2 separate regions of the Homo sapiens genome follow, and region 1 is linked to region 2. Evidence: fine-mapped expression QTL. A gene starts in region 2. The other region holds a variant in brackets. All regions are shown on one strand. Distances are from middle to middle. Region 1 overlaps PLOD2 (procollagen-lysine,2-oxoglutarate 5-dioxygenase 2). Region 2 holds the start of LNCSRLR (lncRNA sorafenib resistance in renal cell carcinoma associated).

Region 1 (5,400 bases), 48 kb before region 2:
ATTATTGTTTTAAAAAGTAGATATTACTATTCTGTAGGTTGCCCGTTCGCTCTGATGGTAGTTTCTTTTGCTGTGCAGAAGCTCTTTAGCTTAATTAGATCCCATTTGTCAATTTTGGCTTTTGTTGCCATTACTTTTGGTGTTTTAGACATGAAGTCCTTGCCCATGCCTATGTCCTGAATGGTATTGCCTAGGTTTTCTTCTAGGGCTTTTATGGTTTCAGGTCTAACATTTAAGTCTTTAATCCATCTTGAATTAATTTTTGTGTAAGGTGTAAGGAAGGGATCAAGTTTCAGCTTTCTACATATGGCTAGCCAGTTTTCCCAGCACCATACAGAAAGGGAGAAAATTTTTGCAATCTACTCATCTGACAAAGGGCTAATATCCAGAATCTACAATGAACTCAAACAAATTTACAAGAAAAAAACAAATAGGGCCATCAAAAAGTGTGTGAAGGATGTGAACAGACACTTCTCAAAAGAAGACATTTATGCAGCCAAAATACACATGAAAAAATGCTCATCATCACTGGCCATCAGAGAAATGCAAATCAAAACCACAATGAGATACCATCTCACACGAGTTAGAATGGCGATCATTAAAAAATCAGGAAACAACAGGTGCTGGAGAGGATGTGGAGAAATAGGAACACTTTTACACTGTTGGTGGGACTGTAAACTAGTTCAACCATTGTGGAAGTCAGTGTGGTGATTCCTCAGGGATCTAGAACTAGAAATACCATTTGACCCAGCCATCCCATTACTGGGTATATACCCAAAGGATTATAAATCATGCTGCTATAAAGACACATGCACAGGTATGTTTATCGCGGCACTATTCACGATAGCAAAGACTTGGAACCAACCCAGATGTCCAACAATGATAGACTGGATTAAGAAAATGTGGCACATACACACCATGGAATACTATGCAGCCATAAAAAATGATGAGTTCATGTCCTTTGTAGGGACATGGATGAAGCTGGAAACCATCATTCTCAGCAAACTATCGCAAGGACAAAAAACCAAACACCGCATATTCTCACTCATAGGTGGGAATTGAACAATGAGATCACATGGACACAGGAAGGGGAACATCACACACGGGGGCCTGTTGTGGAGTGGGGGAATGGGGGAGGGATAGCATTAGGAGATATACCTAATGTTAAATGACAAGTTACTGGGTGCAGCACACCAACATGGCACATGTATACATATGTAACTAACCTGCACGTTGTGCACATGTACCCTAAAACTTAAAGTATAATAAAAAAAAAGAGGCAAAAGTAGATATTACTAGTTATAAAACTATTGTATTAATCAGTTCTTGTGCTGCTACAAATTCCTGAGACTGCATAATTTATAAAGAAAAGAGATTTAGTTGGCTCACAATTTCACAGGCTGTACAGGAAACATGATGCTGGCCAGCTGCTTGGCTTCTGGAGAGGCCTCAGGAAACTTAGGATCATGGCAGAAGGCAAAGGAGGAATGAAGGTCTCACATGATTGGAGCAGGAGGAAGTGAGGGGATGTGCTACATGCTTTTAAACAATCAGATCTCATGAGAACTCTATAATGAGAACATCACTAGGGTGATGGTGCTAAACCATTAGAAACTGCCCTCATGATCCAATCACCTCCCACCCAACCCCACCTCCAGCACTGAGGGTTACGTTTCAACATGAGATGTGGGTGGGGACGTAGATTCAAATTATATCAACTATGGTCTGAGATGATGTAATTAAAGATGATGAATTACCATAAACACTAATGAGACAACATGGCAAGAGCTAACGTTTTTGTGAAATTCATACTTTAGTCTTGAGTTAAGAATAAAGATCATAGTGAGCTTTACTATTGAGACGGGTAACTTAATGGATTCTGGTTAAACAGAAGAAAAAAGACCACGCAAAGTTATAAATACAAGTGAGACATTAGAAAGCCTGTGTTACTAAGAAAGAAGAACCTTTTTAATGTAAATGTATTTTGTGTAATATTTCACTCTCCTAATTAAAATATCCACTCTTTTTTGCCATCTTCTTATAATTTTATAATAACATCAAATTGTCATGAGTTATTAGTTACTACTTCCTTTATTTTATTTTCTGTGTCTTATTTGTTTTTGTTATTGATTGCTCATTTTAAGTCCCCATGAATTTTCCCCTCTAACTTAGGAAGGTCTTTTTACATATTTTTTCTCAATTTGAAAATATAAAGACACAAATTATTTGCAGATGAAAATAAGAGTAATATTTTTATGCATTAGTATAAATAAGAAAGTTATAAATTATGAAATGAAAATAGATGTTAATATAATGAAGTCCCAGTGCCGTACACACTTAAAAATTTTCAAAAGATACATAACACTTGCATCTGTAAAATTTTCCTGTTATATTTTACACAAAATATTAAGTTCTGCTTGTGGTTACCTATTTTGCAAGATGAAGTATGGTAAGGCAAGTGTTAGCCATAGTGTACTGGGAATTTTTCTACAGCATTTGTTATTTTTTTTACACTTAGAAAAAGAATACCAAGTTCATTAAAATAGCTCTGTAGAATAAATACTGGGTATGTTTTGGTTTAAAATTACCATGGATTTCAAACAACCATATTAGTCAGCTTAAACTTGCCACATGTACATTTTCACTTTGGCTCTGAGGCAGATTCTCCTTGTAAGAGTTACTACATGTGAGTCAGAAATGATTTTACATCCTCAAGCTTCCTTTTGGGTTTTAGGAAGAACTTTTCTCTACCATCACTCTCGCATC[A/G]CCATCCCCCACCTCCGGCCCCCTATCTAATATTTGTCCTTGTGGACAACTGGTATAGTGAGGGACCTATTTTTTTCTCATGAGAAGAAGGACACTGTGATATACCTAAAGCCTGCTTGAGGTTGAGTTTGTTGATTTAGATGATACTTTAGGACCCAGCTTGACAGAAAAGATAATAAAATTTTAATGGAAGACACAGTGTCTTCCAGGCACTGTTAGTGTTTGGGATATATAATGGAAACAAACAGATAAAATTTCTGACATCTCCTGTGAGAACAGCCAGCTAACTGAAAACATGGGTGCCCACTCAGCCAAGTTGTTGTCTAAGAAGAGTCATTAACATTTTCTGCATCATTACCTACCATGACTATCCTGTGGAAAAAACCTAGGGGTCATGAGAAAGTAACCAGGAGGTTAAAGAGGGATGAGCAATTGAAGCCACATAAGAAATTTTTTTTACCCTTCTTATTTTTTAAAAACAACACCCTTTTTAAAAAGTTTATACAGAGTAATGAATCTAGTTGAAAATTGTAATCTAGGGCCTGGGAGAATGAATTAAACTGTTTGTAAATGGTTTGAAATATGATGCCCATTCTGTAACACAATTCCTAAACTCTTAATTAAGGTTAGCTCTGGTAAAGGTCCAGAATTCAGGATATGTTCATTTTAATAAAGCAAAACATTCTTATTTTTTATGTGGTATTTTTAAGGACAACTCAACTGTTTTATGGAAGCATAGGTCACTATCATATGAAAATATACACAGATGTATATACTTAGTGGTTTAGATGAGCCTTTTAAGAAACACAGCTTTGTTAGGGCATAATTTATATAACATGCCATAAACATTTGTAAGTGTAAAATTCAATGAATTTAATTAAATTTACAGAGTCGTGCAGTCATCCCCATTATGCAATTTTAGAATGTTTCCAATACCCCATAATTATCCCGTATTCCATTTAGACATGCTAAAAAGCCTGAATTAATTTAGAAACAATTTTGTCGCATTCCTTCCATGGAATATGTATTCTAAACTTACTTTTGGATGAACGTTTAAAATTAGAAACTGGCTCTTTATAATCTGTAGGGTAAGATTTATTATATTTAATTTAGATAAAAAAATTTAGATATTTGGCAAGGTTTTAGGTTATTCTCAGAACAAAAGGAAAACTGAAGATATCCATATATGAGTGAGACCATCTGATACTGTCTTTTTGTGCATGGCTTATATCATTAACCTAGTAACCTCCAGTTGTAACCATTTTATTGTTGCAAATAACAGGATTTCCTTCTTTTTTATGGGTGAATAATATTCCATTATGTGTGTACTCCGTATTTCCTTTATCCATTCATCTGTTGATACATACTTAGATTTGTTCCATATATTTACTATTATAAGTAGTGTTGCAGTAAACATGGAAGTATAGGTATCCCATTGATATACTTATTTTCTTTCCAACAGCACAACAAAAATATCCCCCATGATCAAGTGGGATTTATCCCAGGAATGCCAGGATGGTTCAATATTTATCTGTTAAAATTGTATTTGTTTTATGCCAACTAACTCCCTTTCCCTCCCTCCAAAATTTATAAAATAATTTTAATCATTTTATTGTGATTTTATCATAATCTGTTGTGCAAAGTCAACTGGGTACGTGGGTGTTTTTAACTGTGTGTGTGCGTGTGTGTGTCTGTGTGTCTGTGTCTGTGTGTCTGTGTCTGTGTGTTTTGAGGGTGGGTGGTTAGGAGTGGATCCATAGTATTGGTTTGTGATGTTAATTATCTCTGGAAATATAGACATATGCTTCAGGTGAAGATATGATGAAAGAATTATCAGGTGTGAAGCTACTTCTGTGCTGCTAATAGTTTGGATGATTATAATTTTTGCTGAAGTTTATGCCAATAATGATAAAGGATTGGGGCTAAATGACAAGGTTAGGGAACACTTCTGTTGCTTTCTTTTTTGGCTATATGGGAGCTTTTGCTTCTTGTTGAGACTCAAGATGATGGATTCTGTGGCTTGTACCACTGCCTGTTTTTGTAAAAAGTTTTATTGAAATGCAGCTGTGCTCATTTGTTTACATATTGTCTGTGGTGGCTTTTGCAACACAGTGACAGAGTTCAGTCACTGTGACAGACAATATGGTCATCAGGACCTAAAATATTTTCTGTAAAAGGCCAGAGAGTAAATATTTACTGACTCCCGCTTTAGGCCATAGTTGAGAACCATTGATACAGTCTGGGAACTGGCACAGAATCATTTTTAAAATAGTTTGTCAGACAGTCTTATTTATGAGTGAGGAAGAGATGGGTAATGTAGAGGTCTCTAGGGTTTTAAAATTAATCTAGCCTTGTGCCTTCTAGTGGGAGTGGAGAGGATTTGAATGCAAAATAAATTAAGTAGATGGAATCAATAGGATTAAGGAAAAGATTCCATGAGATAGGCCATGGAAAGAGAGGAGTGAAGGGTGAATGAAAGATTTTCAACCTAGGTGACTATGTGGTTGATGTTGTCACAGAAGTAGGGAACACAGAAGGACAAAAAGGAAAAACACTTAGAAAATCTCAATCATCTATTGAGATAGAACACTGACATGTCTGGCAGGGGACTCAGTATGACCACATCAGGTAGAA
Region 2 (5,400 bases):
TAAGGGTCGATGTCCTCAGGCCAGAGTTTGTTAGGTAACACATGTCTTTACAGAGTGATGTCACTCTTTTCCAAGGCCACTTTTTATTCCTTGCGTTTTCACAGTGAGCTGTGGTGAAAATTCTAAGGCAAATGTTATCTGGCTCTGAAAACTGTTTTTGTGTGTAAAGATAGGAAGGAGGGATCTGAGTGCCTTAGGTGTAATTCAGTTTTGCATTTGCATTCAGTGTCAAAGACTTGGCAGGAAATACTACTGCCAGTGGTTAGATGTGTTTCTTTCCCTCTGAGAACAGACATGCCATTTTAGCAGAATACTCTGGAATATTACTGCCTCTGCACGGTTATGTCCCCCAGGTAATGAGCTGATAAGGGAGAGGGAAGCTTAAAGTATAAGGAAGAACTTAAGTTAGTGGGTGATGAAATAATGAAAAGCAATCATTCAAAAACTTTTGAGTGTTACAAATAGAAGTGAGGAAGGGCGGGGAAAGCTTGTTTTTAGTGTTTGGTAATACAGACAGCAGATATGCTAAGTGTATGCTCATCAAGCAGCTGAGACTGCCTAAAGGGTCACTGTAAAAAAAGACTCATTTTTAAGAAAGGATGTGAGGGCTTAGGAAGTCAATTTTATTTACTTTATAGCTAAACTTCACATATACATTTAAGAAGTAGGAAAGGAGTCTACTGACCTTACATTACTTTGTTTCGTCATTGTATCATTGACAAAGCTGTTACCTAAGTTATTTTGATAATTTTACAGTTAAAGCAGATGATATACCACATTGGAACAACTGTTATTTTTATTGTCTATTATGATCTGTGGTTGAAAAAAAATACTATAATATAAATGGGAATTGCACGTGGAGTACAGCTTATTATGTCATTAATGTTGTTTCTAGGATAGCCGTATATCTGGTGGTTATGAAAATGTCCCAACTGATGATATCCACATGAAGCAAGTTGATCTGGAGAATGTATGGCTTCATTTTATCCGGGAGTTCATTGCACCAGTTACACTGAAGGTCTTTGCAGGCTATTATACGAAGGTAGTTATCCTCTCACCCCTCCAGCCTATTTCTTACCCATTTTTACACAGGTGTTCTTTTTAATGTTTTTATTAATAAGCAAATCCACTGGCTTACTTTGCTTTTTCAGGGATTTGCACTACTGAATTTTGTAGTAAAATACTCCCCTGAACGACAGCGTTCTCTTCGTCCTCATCATGATGCTTCTACATTTACCATAAACATTGCACTTAATAACGTGGGAGAAGACTTTCAGGTAATTATGACTCTTGTGTTTTTAGATTTTTCAAAAGAAATATATCATTATGAAAAGGACTTTGCCTTAGGCCTTAGTTTCTTTTTTAAATTTTGCTCAAATGACATAATTTGAATTTTGCCACTGGTTAAATATAATCTGATGTATTTCTTCATTTTAACTTTTTTAGGGAGGTGGTTGCAAATTTCTAAGGTACAATTGCTCTATTGAGTCACCACGAAAAGGCTGGAGCTTCATGCATCCTGGGAGACTCACACATTTGCATGAAGGACTTCCTGTTAAAAATGGAACAAGATACATTGCAGTGTCATTTATAGATCCCTAAGTTATTTACTTTTCATTGAATTGAAATTTATTTTGGATGAATGACTGGCATGAACACGTCTTTGAAGTTGTGGCTGAGAAGATGAGAGGAATATTTAAATAACATCAACAGAACAACTTCACTTTGGGCCAAACATTTGAAAAACTTTTTATAAAAAATTGTTTGATATTTCTTAATGTCTGCTCTGAGCCTTAAAACACAGATTGAAGAAGAAAAGAAAGAAAAAACTTAAATATTTATTTCTATGCTTTGTTGCCTCTGAGAATAATGACAATTTATGAATTTGTGTTTCAAATTGATAAAATATTTAGGTACAAATAACAAGACTAATAATATTTTCTTATTTAAAAAAAGCATGGGAAGATTTTTATTTATCAAAATATAGAGGAAATGTAGACAAAATGGATATAAATGAAAATTACCATGTTGTAAAACCTTGAAAATCAGATTCTAACTGGATTTGTATGCAACTAAGTATTTTTCTGAACACCTATGCAGGTCTTATTTACAGTAGTTACTAAGGGAACACACAAAGAATTACACAACGTTTTCCTCAAGAAAATGGTACAAAACACAACCGAGGAGCGTATACAGTTGAAAACATTTTTGTTTTGATTGGAAGGCAGATTATTTTATATTAGTATTAAAAATCAAACCCTATGTTTCTTTCAGATGAATCTTCCAAAGTGGATTATATTAAGCAGGTATTAGATTTAGGAAAACCTTTCCATTTCTTAAAGTATTATCAAGTGTCAAGATCAGCAAGTGTCCTTAAGTCAAACAGGTTTTTTTTGTTGTTGTTTTTGCTTTGTTTCCTTTTTTAGAAAGTTCTAGAAAATAGGAAAACGAAAAATTTCATTGAGATGAGTAGTGCATTTAATTATTTTTTAAAAAACTTTTTAAGTACTTGAATTTTATATCAGGAAAACAAAGTTGTTGAGCCTTGCTTCTTCCGTTTTGCCCTTTGTCTCGCTCCTTATTCTTTTTTTGGGGGGAGGGTTATTTGCTTTTTTATCTTCCTGGCATAATTTCCATTTTATTCTTCTGAGTGTCTATGTTAACTTCCCTCTATCCCGCTTATAAAAAAATTCTCCAACAAAAATACTTGTTGACTTGATGTTTTATCACTTCTCTAAGTAAGGTTGAAATATCCTTATTGTAGCTACTGTTTTTAATGTAAAGGTTAAACTTGAAAAGAAATTCTTAATCACGGTGCCAAAATTCATTTTCTAACACCATGTGTTAGAAAATTATAAAAAATAAAATAATTTTAGAAAGTTTTGTTGTTCTATTATTGGTGTTTATCTTCCAACGTGAATACATGATGGAATTGTCTGAAAGAATGAAGCCTTTGATTTTTCATTTTGCTTAGTAGATTTAATGATATACGAAACTATTGAATTATAAATGAAATTATAAAATCTTCAATTTTAGGATGACTAGGGATTTGATCTAACTCGTTTTCCAAGTGAGAAAATAGAAGCCAAATGTTATTCAATATAGGTTTATTTGTTTATTAATATTTTCTGGGTCTCTATTATGGGTCAGGCACTGTTCCAGGCACCAAGGATATGTTGATGAAGAAGACATTATAGTCACTGTGAGATGGACTTAAAAAGATAAGGAAGTTGGTTCTACTCCTGTTCTCTTCTTTGGCGACACTTAATACCCAAAGAAAATTTCTACTATCCATCAACTAGGATAAGGAGACATTTTAGTAATGATTTGTGAATTATGTTACTGTACATCAGGAATGGTTTTCAAAATATGTAACACCTGGTATGATGTAGATGCCAACTCATCGGAACAGACTCTGGTTATAAAAGCAGATCGGTTCGTTCCTACCAGTGCAAGCCAGCTTAATATCTCTTGTGGTACAGTTCAAAGACATCTCCCAGGTACTAGTTATTTTCCATTTTGGTATCCATGGGTGGTTACTTAGCATAACTATTTCAGTCTCATGCCATGTTTTCAGAAATGGGATCCAGGTAGTCTATTGAGCACAGTTTTTTTGTCTTTCCTCTTATCCTACATTCCATGAAATAATATAAAATGTAGCTTTAAAAAGATGATTCATAATTACTGAGAGAAAATTAGAAAAATTCCCATAAGTAGATTAAAAAATTTGAAAAACGGAAAACGAGTAGAATTGGAAGGATGGAGAAAAATACAGCTTGAAACACACAGAGCAGAAGATACAGAAAGTACATCTATTGTTTGATTCATTCATTTTATGCAATATAATAAAGGCTTTTTAAAAAAAATACACACACACACCCATATATATAAACAATTATCCCCTGAATAATATGGGCGTTAGAGGCACTGATCCCCATGCAGTCGAAAATCCACATGTACCTTTTGACTCCCTCAACACTTATCAACTAATAACCTACTGTTGACTGGAAGCCTCACTGATAACATAAACAGCTGATGAACATTTATTTTATATGTTATATGCATTATACACTGTATTGTTACAATAAGCTAGAGAAAACGTTATTTAAAAAATTATAAAGAAAGATAAAATATATTTACTATTCATTAAGTGGAAGTGGATCATCATAAAGGTTTTCATCCTTGTTGTCTTCGCGCTGAGTAGGCTGAGAAGGAAGGGGAAGAGGAAGGGTGTCTCAGGGGTGGCAGAGACAGAAAAAACCGGCATACACATGAGCCCGCGTAGTTTAAGCACATGTAGTCCAAGGGCTTATTGTGTATCTGCAACAATCAGATATCTCTGACAGATGAACCTGATAAAGTCACACTATTTAGAGTATGATACCATTTATGTTAAAAACAAAATACTATATATGTGTGCATAAACCTACAGAAAATTTCCTAGAGAGGAACAACTCTGGAGAGTGGTATGAGATCACGGAGGAGTAAATAGGATTTATGCCTTTTACGTTTTACACTTGTGTTTTTGAAATATTATAGAAATATATTTGTATATTGATTGTTTAAAGAAAAAAAGACTAGAAGGAAAAGGAGACATTCACGTAACTAATTTGAATAAATGGAAGCATATGGATGTCAATAGTAACCGTGTGTGTGTGCGCATGTGTGTGTATGTGTATACATACATTACCAAGGTGCTTTAAATGCTCACCGTGGTAGAATTTTTTCTAATTCTTAATGCGCATAGGAATCAATATGAATATTTTCCTTAATATAGATACTTCAGTAGTCATCCAGTGCATTAATCTTCATTCTGCTTCATCTTTGAAAACACTAGTAATTTATCTGTATTGGTAACTTAACTAAGAGGTCAAATATCCTTCTATGGAATAGAAATGTGGAAAACAATGAACATATGAGTTGAGTGGTCCATCCTCGTCACAGAATCTCTTTATGTACTCACTTCTGTTTTCCTGTCTGACATACGTATGTCTTGATTTATTTGCTTTTTATGCCCTAAAGCCCATTTTACATGACATGCTGGTAACTTGTCATTCATTTGGAATTTGGAATGGTTATTCAACAGATGTCTTAAAGTTTCAGAAGAGCCCAGTAGAATTTTTAGTCATAATTGAGTCTGTGTAAATAACTCCCTCTGACTAGACTAGAGGTTAACTGTTGCGGAATATTGAAGTCTTCAAGACTTCATGAAAGCAGTGTATCAAACAGAACTGTTTGTTTTGTGGTCTTTTAGAATAGCAAGCCACAGCATTATTTAAGAATAATTATTAACAAAAAGCCATTGGGAAGAAAAATAGGGAAATGTATAAAACTTTTTAATGCAATGAGTTTTGGATTAAAATAGAAGTACACTAAGAAATAATGAGAAGAGAAAATTGT

What was found. PIP is the estimated chance that this variant, and not a neighbour inherited with it, causes the effect. A credible set is the group of variants that fine-mapping cannot tell apart.
Region 1: its variant is the best candidate, but not a certain one, in a credible set for the expression of LNCSRLR in fibroblasts (GTEx, PIP 0.55).

The regions. Positions count from the first base shown.
Region 1 is chr3:146,115,322-146,120,721 of GRCh38, reverse strand. All of the region lies in intron 3 of PLOD2 (procollagen-lysine,2-oxoglutarate 5-dioxygenase 2), which reads left to right. Among named protein-coding and RNA genes, the nearest start is that of PLOD2, 43 kb to the left of the region's middle. The variant A/G (reference allele first, on the strand shown) is at 2,767.
Region 2 is chr3:146,066,919-146,072,318 of GRCh38, reverse strand. LNCSRLR (lncRNA sorafenib resistance in renal cell carcinoma associated) reads left to right here and starts at 3,134. Exons shown (of 2, transcript NR_146297.1): 1 at 3,134-3,500. It overlaps PLOD2 (procollagen-lysine,2-oxoglutarate 5-dioxygenase 2), which reads left to right. Exons shown (of 20, transcript NM_182943.3): 18 at 896-1,042; 19 at 1,152-1,277; 20 at 1,447-2,879. The coding sequence ends at 1,602.